Homo sapiens: one gene and its partners. The protein of the gene in region 3 purifies or fractionates together with the protein of the main gene of each other region. This does not show direct contact. Each region holds a gene or a part of one and is shown on either strand. Other genes may lie near its edges.

Evidence for each region.
Region 1: the proteins of IRGC (region 3) and AP3S1 purify together in Homo sapiens (affinity purification with mass spectrometry; one large-scale study listed by BioGRID and IntAct). This does not show direct contact.
Region 2: the proteins of IRGC (region 3) and RPS6KA3 purify together in Homo sapiens (affinity purification with mass spectrometry; one large-scale study listed by BioGRID and IntAct). This does not show direct contact.

What each region holds. Positions count from the first base shown.
Region 1 is NC_000005.10:115,844,725-115,848,449, forward strand, and holds part of AP3S1 (AP-3 complex subunit sigma-1), read left to right. Parts: intron 1-3,725. UniProt on the Homo sapiens protein: Part of the AP-3 complex, an adaptor-related complex which is not clathrin-associated. The complex is associated with the Golgi region as well as more peripheral structures.
Region 2 is NC_000023.11:20,172,910-20,176,409, reverse strand, and holds part of RPS6KA3 (ribosomal protein S6 kinase alpha-3), read left to right. Parts: intron 1-57; coding exon 58-160; intron 161-1,121; coding exon 1,122-1,246; intron 1,247-3,500. UniProt on the Homo sapiens protein: Serine/threonine-protein kinase that acts downstream of ERK (MAPK1/ERK2 and MAPK3/ERK1) signaling and mediates mitogenic and stress-induced activation of the transcription factors CREB1, ETV1/ER81 and NR4A1/NUR77, regulates translation through RPS6 and EIF4B phosphorylation, and mediates cellular proliferation, survival, and differentiation by modulating mTOR signaling and repressing pro-apoptotic function of BAD and DAPK1.
Region 3 is NC_000019.10:43,714,808-43,719,088, reverse strand, and holds the start of IRGC (interferon-inducible GTPase 5), read right to left. Parts: upstream 3,014-4,281; 5' UTR 2,947-3,013; intron 2,213-2,946; exon of another isoform or gene 2,140-2,212; intron 710-2,139; exon of another isoform or gene 642-709; coding exon of another isoform or gene 531-641; coding exon 1-530. UniProt on the Homo sapiens protein: Required for sperm motility and therefore male fertility, via positive regulation of spermatozoa fibrous sheath formation.

The DNA of each region.
Region 1 (3,725 bases), on a different chromosome or scaffold from region 3:
CACAAACATCACCTAAACATTCCGTGAAGCCTTTGATCTTGCTCAAAGCCTCCTCCTGGTTTTTAGGATTTTTTTCATCTTTGTTATGACACAGTATTCTCGTTCACAGCCTATAATTCCTCGTGGCAGCCATCCTATAGAATACTTGAAGGAACGTATCAGATTTTAGGTATATTTTTGTCATTCTAAGCAGTCAACACTGAGTCTTGAACATAGAAAACTCTCTAACTCTTTGCTAAATGCATTTATTTAGAATCTCCTAGCTTGGGATAGAGTTGGGATTAGTTAACTTGCTGAGTTTCCTTCTATCTCTTAAAATGTAGTCCTTCACTAACTAGAGGTTTTAAGAATCTCTGCCTTTAGCATAAAAGTAATGATGGCATATGTGTTACTCAGCTGTTTCTGTTTTAAGGGGTCTCTAAGAAGTATATGTCCAATATGAATAAAAATATTGAGTTTAATTTATTAAACAATATCTAGAGGTGTGACTGAGCTAACAATTCCATATACTGGCAGGATGCTGAGGTTTGAGTCCAACAGTAATCGTTTAACACTGAGCAGTTTAAAAAATGTTTAACCATTTGCCAACAAGTTTATCCTACTGCACTTCATTTTCATTCCTCATTTATCTCCCTCAAATATAACAACTTACATATTCATCTCTGCCCTTTAACAGTGCACATTTCCATTTCATGCTGTAATAGATTGTTAGATTCGATTGTGGCTCCAAGCTGTTATATGTGAGAAATAGGAAGTTGCGCACCTGTTTTGCTAAACAGAAGTTTTGGTTCATTCTGCTAGAGTCAGACATTACGAATTCAAGTGTGGGCTGGGTGCCATGGCTCATGCCTGTAATCTCAGCACTTTGGGAGGCCAAGGCAGGCGGATCACCTGAGGTCAAGAGTTCAAGACCAGTGTGGCCAACATGGTGAAACCCCATCTCTACTAAAAATACAAAAATTAGCCAGGCATGGTAGCGCACGCCTATAAGTGCAGCTACTCGCTCGAGGCTGAGATAGGAGAATTGCTTGAACCTGGGGAGGTGGAGAATGCAGTGAGCTGAGATCGTGCCACTGCATTCCAGCCTGGGTGACAGAGTGAGACTCCATCTCAAAAAAAAAAAAAAAAAAAAAAAAAAAAAAAAAAAAAATTCAAGTCTGGACTCAAAATGCATCCCTTTTCGTTTTTGCCTTCTATATCCTTGGTCTATGACTGCACAAATTCAAATGTTTTGCTTGGTTTGTCTTTTTAAGTTGATACTTAGCTTCAGCGACTTGACAACAGTAACCTTTAGTCTTTTAATACTTACCTGACAGTATTTGTGCATTACTGTAAATAACTAATGAGACTTATATTTTATAAACTAAATATATTTTTACATAGCTATCAAACAAAAAAATCCCTTCGGTTGTGATTCCATAGTGTATCCTCTGGTGAATTACTTTTAAAAAATTTTTCTTTTTTTATAGAGAAAAGGTCTCACTATGTTGCTCAGGCTGGTCTTAACCTCCTGGCCTCAAACACTCCTCCAGCTTTGGCTTCCCAAAGTGCTGGGATGACAGATCTGAGCCACCATGCCTGGCCTGTGAATTACTTTTATAAAGTGGAAATGTCTTTCTTTTGTGTGAATTATCTTAGTTGTTTCTTCAGATATAAAATACTGTGTGTATGTATGCATGTGTGTGTACACACCACACACATATTAAGTGCAAGCAGGAAAAATTTCAAATTAACCTATATGAGTTGCCTCAATTTTTTTAATAAACTGTATTTAATTAAACTGTTAACCAAATGCAAGCCTTAGGAGGAACTCTAAGATTCTTCTTTCTCGTTTTTTTTTTTTTTTTTAAATCTTAACATAAAAATACAAAGTGTTGAAAGTATAGATAACTTCTTTTTTCTTTTAAAAATATCCCTTAAAAAGATCCATCCATGTTCACTCATGTCTTTTTTTAGTGACTATTAAGACGTTGTGGCAGATGGGATAATTAAACTTATGTCTGTGATCAAGATAGAATTATCAACACTCCTGAGTATGAGGGTGTTAACACATACTAACACACGGCATTTCAGCTTTTTGTTAAGAAGAAAATTCCATACGATTTGGTTTCCTTCCATATTAGTTATAATGCGTTTGTCTGCATAAATTGGGTTTTATGTAGCCTGACTCAAGTGCTTGGAAAGAACTATGTTAGGTACATTATAGGAAGTGCAGAGTAGTAGACCGATTCCAAAAGTATTTGATTCAGCAAATCAATGACTTTATTGTAGATCCAATTTCTTTCTCTTTCTCTGCTTTACTCATCACAAAATTACTATTATCCAAAGGCTGTTTTTCTCCTTTGGTAATCAGTTCAATTCAGAAAGAGACAACCATCTGTTTCTGCAGTCCTGGACTGTGTCTTTCCCTTCATTCTGGTTAGACCCACCCAAGACCAATATTCTTACCCTAATCAACATCCAACTTTGGATTGGAGCTGAAGATGAGAGTGAAAACGGGAATAAAATGGATATTCTGTTGGAAAGATGAAAGAAAGGAGTGGATGGTGGGTAGGCAAACAAGGGTCTGCTATTTCTTCTTCTAAACTTTTAAAAAAATATTTATTTTTATGGCCGGGTACAGTGGCTCATGCCTGTAATCCCAGCACGTTGGGAGGCCTAGATGGGAGGATTGTTTGAGCCCAGGAGTTCAAGACAAGCCTGGGCAACGTGGCAAAACCCTGTCTCTATGCCAAAAATACAAAAATTAGTGAGTCATGTTAGCACACACCTATAGTCTTAGCTGCTTAGGTGGCTGAGGTGAGAGGATCACTGAGCTCCGGAGATCAAGGCTGCAATGAGCTGAGATTGCGCCATTGCGCTCCAGCCTGGGTGACAGAGGAGACCCTGTCTCAACAAATTTAAAAAAATATATGTTTTTATTGAGGTATAGATGACAAAAAAAAATTACATATATTTACCGTGTACATGTTATTTTTGTATATGTATATATTGTGAAATGGGTAAATCAAGCTAACTAACATGTCTATCACCACTATTCCCTCTTTATTAGCTTTTAATATATATTAGTTTTCTGAAATTTTAGATTGCTTCTGAGGTTGTTAATATCAGGAATAGTTCCTTGTAATATGCAATACTGAACCTGTGTCACAATAGATCTTAATTTCAGGTTTTCCTTATATCAAAGTATCCTCGAAAAACCCAAATGCTTATACGTTCACAGTTTTTATGTGGAGTATGCTGGAAAACTTGCTTTTTAAAAATTAAGACTAAACCTTTTGAATATTTAATTGTAAAGGAGGAAATAAAGTCTTCAAAGTTAAAATGATTTTTGGTTATGAGGTAAGTGTTATAAATAGGACAATGTTATAGGTCATTTCATGGCTTTTCTAAAAGAAGGCCTTACGTGACGTACCTATATTATATTCTTTAGCAAAGTTGTTTTCAATTTTAAGTAAGTTTCTTTTTTTGTGACTGTGGAAAATTAAATATTAAGGCCACTAAGGTCATTCTTGATTTTACCACACACAGATAATTATTAACACTTAGTGTATTTCCCCCCGGTCTTTATTTTTCTTTTCAGAATGTCCCAGTGAATAGGATATACCTTTTAGACATTAATAACACAAATAAATGCTTTGAAGCTGATGATGGATTTATTAAACATTGTGGCTTTAAGATAACTGAATATGTTAATGTTCAGCCACTCTCTTGTTAAAATTTAA
Region 2 (3,500 bases), on a different chromosome or scaffold from region 3:
TGAAATATTTCTTTATAATTAAAATATGTCTAAGTCTCTTTTTTTTTTCCCCTCCAGAAACTGTATAGAAGAGAAATTCATCCGCCATTTAAACCTGCAACGGGCAGGCCTGAAGATACATTCTATTTTGATCCTGAGTTTACTGCAAAAACTCCCAAAGGTAAGGAGAAAATGTGAAAATCCAAATATAAGACAACAAATATGTTTTTTTCTTGTTTCATCAGAAAATCTTTTCCAGACTCTGGGCGCGGTGGCTCACACTTGTAATCCCAGCACTTTGGGAGGCTGAGGCGAGCAGATCGCTTGAGGCCAGGAGTTGGAGACCAGCTTGGCCAACATAGTGAAACGCTGTCTCTACTAAAAATACCAAAATTAGCCAGGTTTGGTGGCATGTGCCTGTAATCCCAGCTACTTGGGTGGCTGAGGCACGAGAATCGCTTGAACCTGGGAGGTGGAGGTTGCAGTGCATCAAAATTGCACCACTGCACTCCAGCCTGGGTGACAGAGCGACACTCTGTCTCAAAAAGAAAAAAAGAAAATCTTTTCCTGGATAACTCTCTAAGCTATCTTCACATCTCCTAAATTTGCTGTAGATCAACCTTGTATCTCCCCTGTTCCACCCCAACTAGGTTATTATTGAGGGCTGCAGTTTCTAATATGGTAGCCAGTAGCCACATGTGGCTAATTAAATTTAAATTAATTAAAATTTAAAGTGTAGTTTCTCAGTCACGCTAGGCACGTTTCAAATGTCGAAAAGCTGCATGTAGCTAGTGGCTATCAGACTGTAAAGTTAAAGAAAATTTCCATCATTTCAGGAAATTCCATGGGACAGCATTAATTTTGAATACCATTAACCCTATAATTCATCGATGTATTATAGTCTTCAAATGAATTAGCTATTTTCTAGGCTCCGAGGGACTAGGATGTTGGTGTTGTAATGGCAATACACAATCAGAACAGATCTGATACAGTGCCTCACAGGTATCCTGGAAAGCAAGAGGTATATACTGTGTACCTGAGAAATAGAATTCCAGAATAAGTGAAAAAGGTCATAGTGTCAACAGTTTTTCCCTTAATTTCCTTTCAAATGAATCTTCTTTGTCACTTCTTACTCTTTTCAGATTCACCTGGCATTCCACCTAGTGCTAATGCACATCAGCTTTTTCGGGGGTTTAGTTTTGTTGCTATTACCTCAGATGATGAAAGCCAAGCTATGCAGACAGTTGGTGTACATTCAATTGTTCAGGTGAGTGGATGTCTAAATAATTTTAGATTTGGAATGTTGTAAGATATAGTTCATTCTGTGAATAGATCTTTTTCTACTGACTTCAAGTGAGCAATTTAAAATACATTTTAGACTGGGCATAGTGGCTCACACCCGTAATCCCAGCACTTTGGGAGGCCAAGGCAGTTGGATCACTTGAGGTCAGAAGTTCAAGACCAGCCTGGCCAACATGGTGAAACCCCTATCTCTACTAAAAATACAAAAATGAGTTGGGCATAGTGGCACGTGCCTGTAATTCCAGGTACTCAGGAGGCTGAGGCACAAGAATCACTTGATTCTGAGGCAGAGGTTGCAGTGAGCGGAGATCGCACCACTGCACTCCAGCCTGGGTGACAGAGTTGAAACTCTGTCTCAAAAAATAAAATAAAATACATTTTATATCATTAACTTTACTCTTAGGAATTTTTTTCATATGTCATCGAAAAGGTTGCAAGAACCAAAATCCTAGATACCTATGTGACTTGAAAGTAGAGTTTTAGGCCAGGTGCGGTGGCTCATGCTTGTAATCCCAGCACTTTGGGAGGCCGAGGCGGGCAGATCACAAGGTCAGGAGTTCGAGACCAGCCTGTCCAACACAGTGAAACCCCGTCTCTACTAAAAATACAAAAATTAGCTGGGCGTGGTGGCGCATGCCTGTAATCCCAGCTACTTAGGAGGCCGAGGCAAGAGAATCACTTGAACCCGGGAGGCAGAGTTTGCAGTGAGCCGAGATCCGCCACTGTACTCCAGCCTGGGCGACAGAGCTAGACTCTGTCTCAGAAAAAAAAAAAAAAAAAAGAAAGTAGAATTTTAAAAGAGTTGAGATAAACATGACGATGTTGTCTATATCCTCTCCTGTGCCTCAAAATGTTTTTCATGCCGAGTTTGTTTCACCCTCTGCCTCCTTCAGGTCAGCTATGATGAATTGAGGTCTTCTGGTTCTTTGATGCCTTAGAACAGGAGTCGGCAGACTTTCTCTGTGAAGGGTCAGATAATACTTGAGGCTTTGTGGGCTATATGGGCTGTGTCACAACTACTCAACTCTGCTATGTAGCACAAAACAACCACAGACAATACATAAACAAGTGGGCATGGCTGTGCACCAATAAAACTTTATTTACACACACAGGCAATGAATCAGATTTGGCTCACTGGCCATAGTTTGTCAACCTTTGCCTTAGAAAAGATACAAGAAATAAAAATGAACTCAAATCTTAAGTCATCTTTCTAATCAAAGGGAACTCGATATATCTTTTGAAGCATTGGATTCTTTTTAGGATATCATTTGTACTTGGATTTGCTTGATGATTAAGTTGCTTTTGCTCTAAAGTTTTTTCATGAGTCAGTTATCCTGTTTTCCATTTTGTAGAAAAACAATTAAAACACTGGTTTTTAAGCAGAGCTCATGTTGAAATAGTCTGTGCCATTTACTATGCAAGCACATGAATGTATGGCAAGTTTTTAAATTACAAATTCTGTACCTAACATAGAAACCACAAACTTGTATATCCTACAAAATTCAAGTTTTAACATATACAAAGCTCATAGGCATGGATGTCTCATATCAGTATAGCCAAGGGCAGCACAACTTTCCTCAGCCTGTTTATGGAATCAGTAAGTTGCTGTTCATCATCTACTGTGTGTTATTAGTCCCTAACCCATGACGAGCTTCTTTAGCATAAGTTGTGTAAGGCTATGACTTCAGGGTGAAGAAAGGAGGGAGTGGCTACTGAAAGTCCAAAATGGCGATAACAGGTATTGCTTGCAAATACATTATTTTTATTTAATCTTCACCATTACCCTCTGAGAAAATACAGGCTCAAAGTTACATAGCCTGTAAGTGGTGTACCTGAGACAAGAATTCAGATATTCTAATTCTGAATCCTCCTAAATCCTTTCCTTCTATACCATAGGTTTCAAACTTCTCATTTGCAAAGGTACTTGAAAACCTATAGCCGACTGGGGACTGGAATAAGGCTGAATCACAGACAAAGATGTAGGCCCCATATCAAGTAGCTCTGCTTTTTCTGTTGTGCAAATTCAATTTTTGTTTGTAACATAAGCTTTTTTAAGTCATATTTCTTGCTGTACACTTCATTGTAAACACTTTCAAAATCACTTGTTTGTAGAATAATAAGTACTATAAAGATGTATTTTTATTCTTATTCATTTATATGTAGGGCATCAACAATGCATGCTGAGTAACATACTTCCCTATTATAAAATGCACTAAAGG
Region 3 (4,281 bases):
GTGGCCGCCAGGTCCTCGTCCACCTTGGTGCGCACAAAGTAGAACTTCTTGCCCTGGCACAGGATCTCAGCGGCCAGGCGGGTCTCGACGGCCCCGCAGCGGCGGGGGGAGACCAGCAGGAAGAAGTCATAGCGGCTGAAGTCTACCTGCTTTAGGTACTTGTCAGCCGGGCAGCCTGGAGAGCCGGCTCCTGGCAGGTCCCAGAGGGTCACGTCAGGGAACTGTGGGTGTGGATAGGGCGACGGTTGCATCGTGGTCTCCATGACGCCCGTGAGAGCCGCGCCAGGGTCCTCGGCCTCCAGGCCACGCAGGGCATTGATGAGGGAGGACTTGCCCGCGCCCGACTCGCCCGTGACGCCCACCTCCAGGCGGATGCTTTCCGTGGAGGCCAGCAGCTCCTGGAGGTGAGAGGCGGCCTGGGGGAGGTCACCCGACTCAAAGGCTGTGCGCAGGGCCTCCAGCCTTTCCTTGGCCATAAGGATGGTGTTTTCCTCCTCCCCAGGCACCACGGGCAACTTTGAAGTAGCCATGGTGGCCAGTGGTTCAGAGGGTGGCGGGGGACAGGGGAGAGTCACAGGATGCGTGATCCTCAGCGCCTGCAGAGGAGAAGGGAGCCATTCACACCTCCTGGGCCTTGGCATGGGGCAGGGAGAGACAGATACCACGGATGTGAAGGGAGTCGCCCTGGAAGCCCACAGCTCTCTTTTTCCTTCAAGAATTGGGGACACATTTTTGGCACAAGTTAGAGGGCTTTGGGGTCTGGCAGGCCCAGGTTCACATCCCTTTTCTGCCACTAACTTGCTGTGTGACCAGGGGCAAAATGAAGCACCTCTCTGGGTAATGGGCATGACCACCAAGCAGCCTCTTGGAGCACTATTGGAGTCTCCAGGGTAACCTAGGCACAGGTCAGTTTTCTGGGTGTATGTGTGCCCTGGAGGGTTCTGTGCTTAGAATGGCCCAGTGCTTGGTTTAATGCTCTGCTGACACTAGCTGAAATTGTTTGTTTGTTTGTTTGTTTGTTTGAGACAGGGTCTCTCTGTCATCGAGGCTGGAGCACAGTGCTACGATCATGGCTCATTGCAGCCTTGATCTCCTTGGCTCTAGCAATCCTCCCACCTCAGCCTCCTGAACAGCTGGGACCACAGGCGCATGCCACCATGCCCAGCTACTTTTTAAATTTTTTGTAGAGATGGGAGTCTCACTATGTTGTCCCAGCTGGTCTTGAACTTCCGAGATCAAGGTCCTCCTGCCTCAGCTTCCCAGAGCGCTGGGATTAAGGGCATGAGCCACTATGCCTGGCCTGAAATTCTTTATAATATTTGAACCAGGGGCCCCATATTTTCATTTCGTACTGGGCCTTGCAAATTATATAGCCAGGGCAAATTACATAGCCAGGGCTGCATAGGAAAGGGTGGTACAGGCCCATTCAGAGGAAACAGCTGCACTCCTGCGGTGGCTGGGATTGGAGGGTAGGGTGGAGGGGACCCAGACCCGGAGCCAGACTGCCTGGGATCAAATCCTGGCTCCACCACATACTTACTGAGTGATGTGAGGCAAGTTACTTAACTCTCTCCTCACTCTCCTCATCTGAACACTGAGAATGATACCTACAATCCTGGCAAACCACCTCCTAGGATCTCTGTGACTTGAATGAGTTATGACATAAAGCAGCCCATAAAACGGCGCCTGGCTCAGGGCAGGTGCCTCGTGTCATTGGCATCACCATCATCGTCATTATTCTTATCATTAGTAATATTCTTAGCTGTGTGACTTTGAGCAAGTCCTCGCCCTGTCTGAGCCTCAGCTGCCCCGTGGGGGATACTCCTCCCCACCTCGCAGGGCTGCTGTGATGCCCACAAACCCCGTTCAGCTAGCCCTAGGCTGACTTTGGGTTCAGACGCCCTTGGGTTCGGGAAGCCAGACATGGGGACCACCTGGACACCAGGAGTCATTTCCATGAAACCCCACCCCTGCCATGGCAGCCCTTGCCTCCCGGGGTTCAGTTCCCCTCCCACCGCCCAGAGCTCCTGTCGTGATGGTCCCCCCTCAGATCCCTCCTCCTCACCAGGAGCTTCCCTGGTCCTCCCTCTTCCCACTCACCCTCCTCTGGCCCATCATCTCTAAAATACATTTACTCACTAAGGGTCTTCAGGGTGCCCTGGGAGAGCTGCTCATGTCTGGGATCACTGTCCCCATTTGACAGGGAGAAGGACTGAGGCTCAGACAAGACAAATGAGGTCTCCTCATCCAGAGGCATAGCCAGGACCCCAACCCAGGTCCCCAGGCTCCTTCACCCACCTAGAGAGCTACTCTCCCTTCAGCTGCATGTCCCTGCCTCCTGCATTGTCTCCTTGCCCCCTGCACCCCGTCTCTTCACCTCCTACCACTCACCCCATCCTCTGCTACCCCACTCCACCCCCCACAGAAATATGTCCTTAAGACATTGTTCCCGGCTGGGCATGGTGGCTCACGCCTGTAATCCTAGCACTTTGGGAGGCCGAGGTGGGTGGATCACTTGAGGTCAGGAGTTCGAGACCAGCCTGGCCAACATGGTGAAACTCCATCTCCACTAAAAATACAAAAATTAGCCAGGTGTTGTGGCGCATGCCTGTAGTCCCAGCTCTTGAACCCAGGAGGCGGAGGTTGCAGTGAGCCAAGATTGCACCACTGCACTCCAGCCTGGGCGACAGAGCGAGACTCCGTCTCAGAAAAAAAAAAAGGAAAAAAAAAAGACATTGTTGCCTCCAGATCTGAGCCTCCTATCCTGGGTGTGCCCTCTCCCTAGTATGGTCTGCGGTGGGAAGAGTAGGAACCTGGAACAGGTCCTGGCAGCAAGGGGCAGACAAGTCAGTGGTTGGAATTTGGGCTGAGGGGGTCCGGATTAGACCATAAGCTCCTGCTCCGCCCACGCACAGGGGCCCAGCGAGAGAGCCCTGGGGGACTCACCTGCCCTGCAGGCTCTCCCTCTCCCCTCACACTCTCCCCACTGATAGGATCTCCTTCCCTCTTAGCCAAGGTCAGACACCGTTGCTAGGACCCATTATCATAGCAAGCAGCAGCTTATTGGTCAGCCAGACCTGGTGCAATAATGCGACAGTGATGTCAGGGGGTGGGGCCCGGAGGTGGAGCAGGGACCCCAAGCCCCAGCTGCTCATGGGGTCACCACCCACTCACACTGGGCCCTCCAGTTCCCCTGAAGACTCCAGAGAGATCTTTCTAACACCAAGACCTGTTCAAAATCCTCCATGGTCTCCATCACCCCCCAAGGACAAAGTCTCAGATTCACAGATTGGTTTCCAAGGGCTTGGCCCTGCTACCACTCCACCCTCCACCCAGGGGACTGTCAGTTCCCCAGAGAAGTGTGAAAGTTGATGATACAAATTCGGTCATTGCTGGTGGGCACAGTGGCTCACGCCTGTAATGCCAGCACTTTGGGAGGCCGAGGCGAGTGCATCACTTGAGGCCAGGAGTTTGAGATCAGCCTGGGCAATGTGGTGAAACTCCATCTCTACTAAAAATACAAAAATTAGCCAGATGTGGTGCATGCATGTAGTCCCAGCTACTCGGGAGGCTGATCTGCTATCTTGTAAGCCCAATAATTTAGTCATTGATTTCTTTTTTTTCTTTTTTTGAAACAGTGTCTTGCTCTGTCACCCAGGCTGGAGTGCAGTGACACAATCTTGGCTCACTGCAACCTCCGCCTCCTGGGTTCAAGTGATTCTCCTGCTTCAGCCTCCTGAGTAGCTGGGACTACTAGCATGCACCACCAGGCTTGGCTAATTTTTTTTTTTTTTTTTTTTTTTTAGTAGAGGTGGGGTTTCACCATGTTGCCTAGGCTGGTCTTGAACTCCTGACCTCAGGTTATCCGCCTGCCTCGCCTCCCAAACCTCCTGACCTCAGGTTATGCCGCCTCCCAAAGCGCTAAGATTACAGGTGTAGCCACTACACCCGGCCCCTTCTTGTCCTTTATAAGTGTCTCTGTCCTGTCTCCCCTCCGGGCTTCCTCTCTGCCCAGGCCAGGCTCCACAGGGCCTTCTCCATTCTCCTCTTGTAGGGAATTTACAATAACGCTACTCAGAGGATTTTCCTGACCATCTGCAGGCCAGTTCTGGAAAGGAGCCTCTGAGAACAACTAAGGAGAGAGAGGCCCAGAAGGGGAATAGACTAGCTCAGAGCCACCCTGAGAGCTGGGGAAGAGTGGGCTGTTGGCCGCATAGTACAGAGTTCTTAAGCCACAGGTGAAAGGGAGGTGCAGGGCAAAAGACACACGACTCACTCATG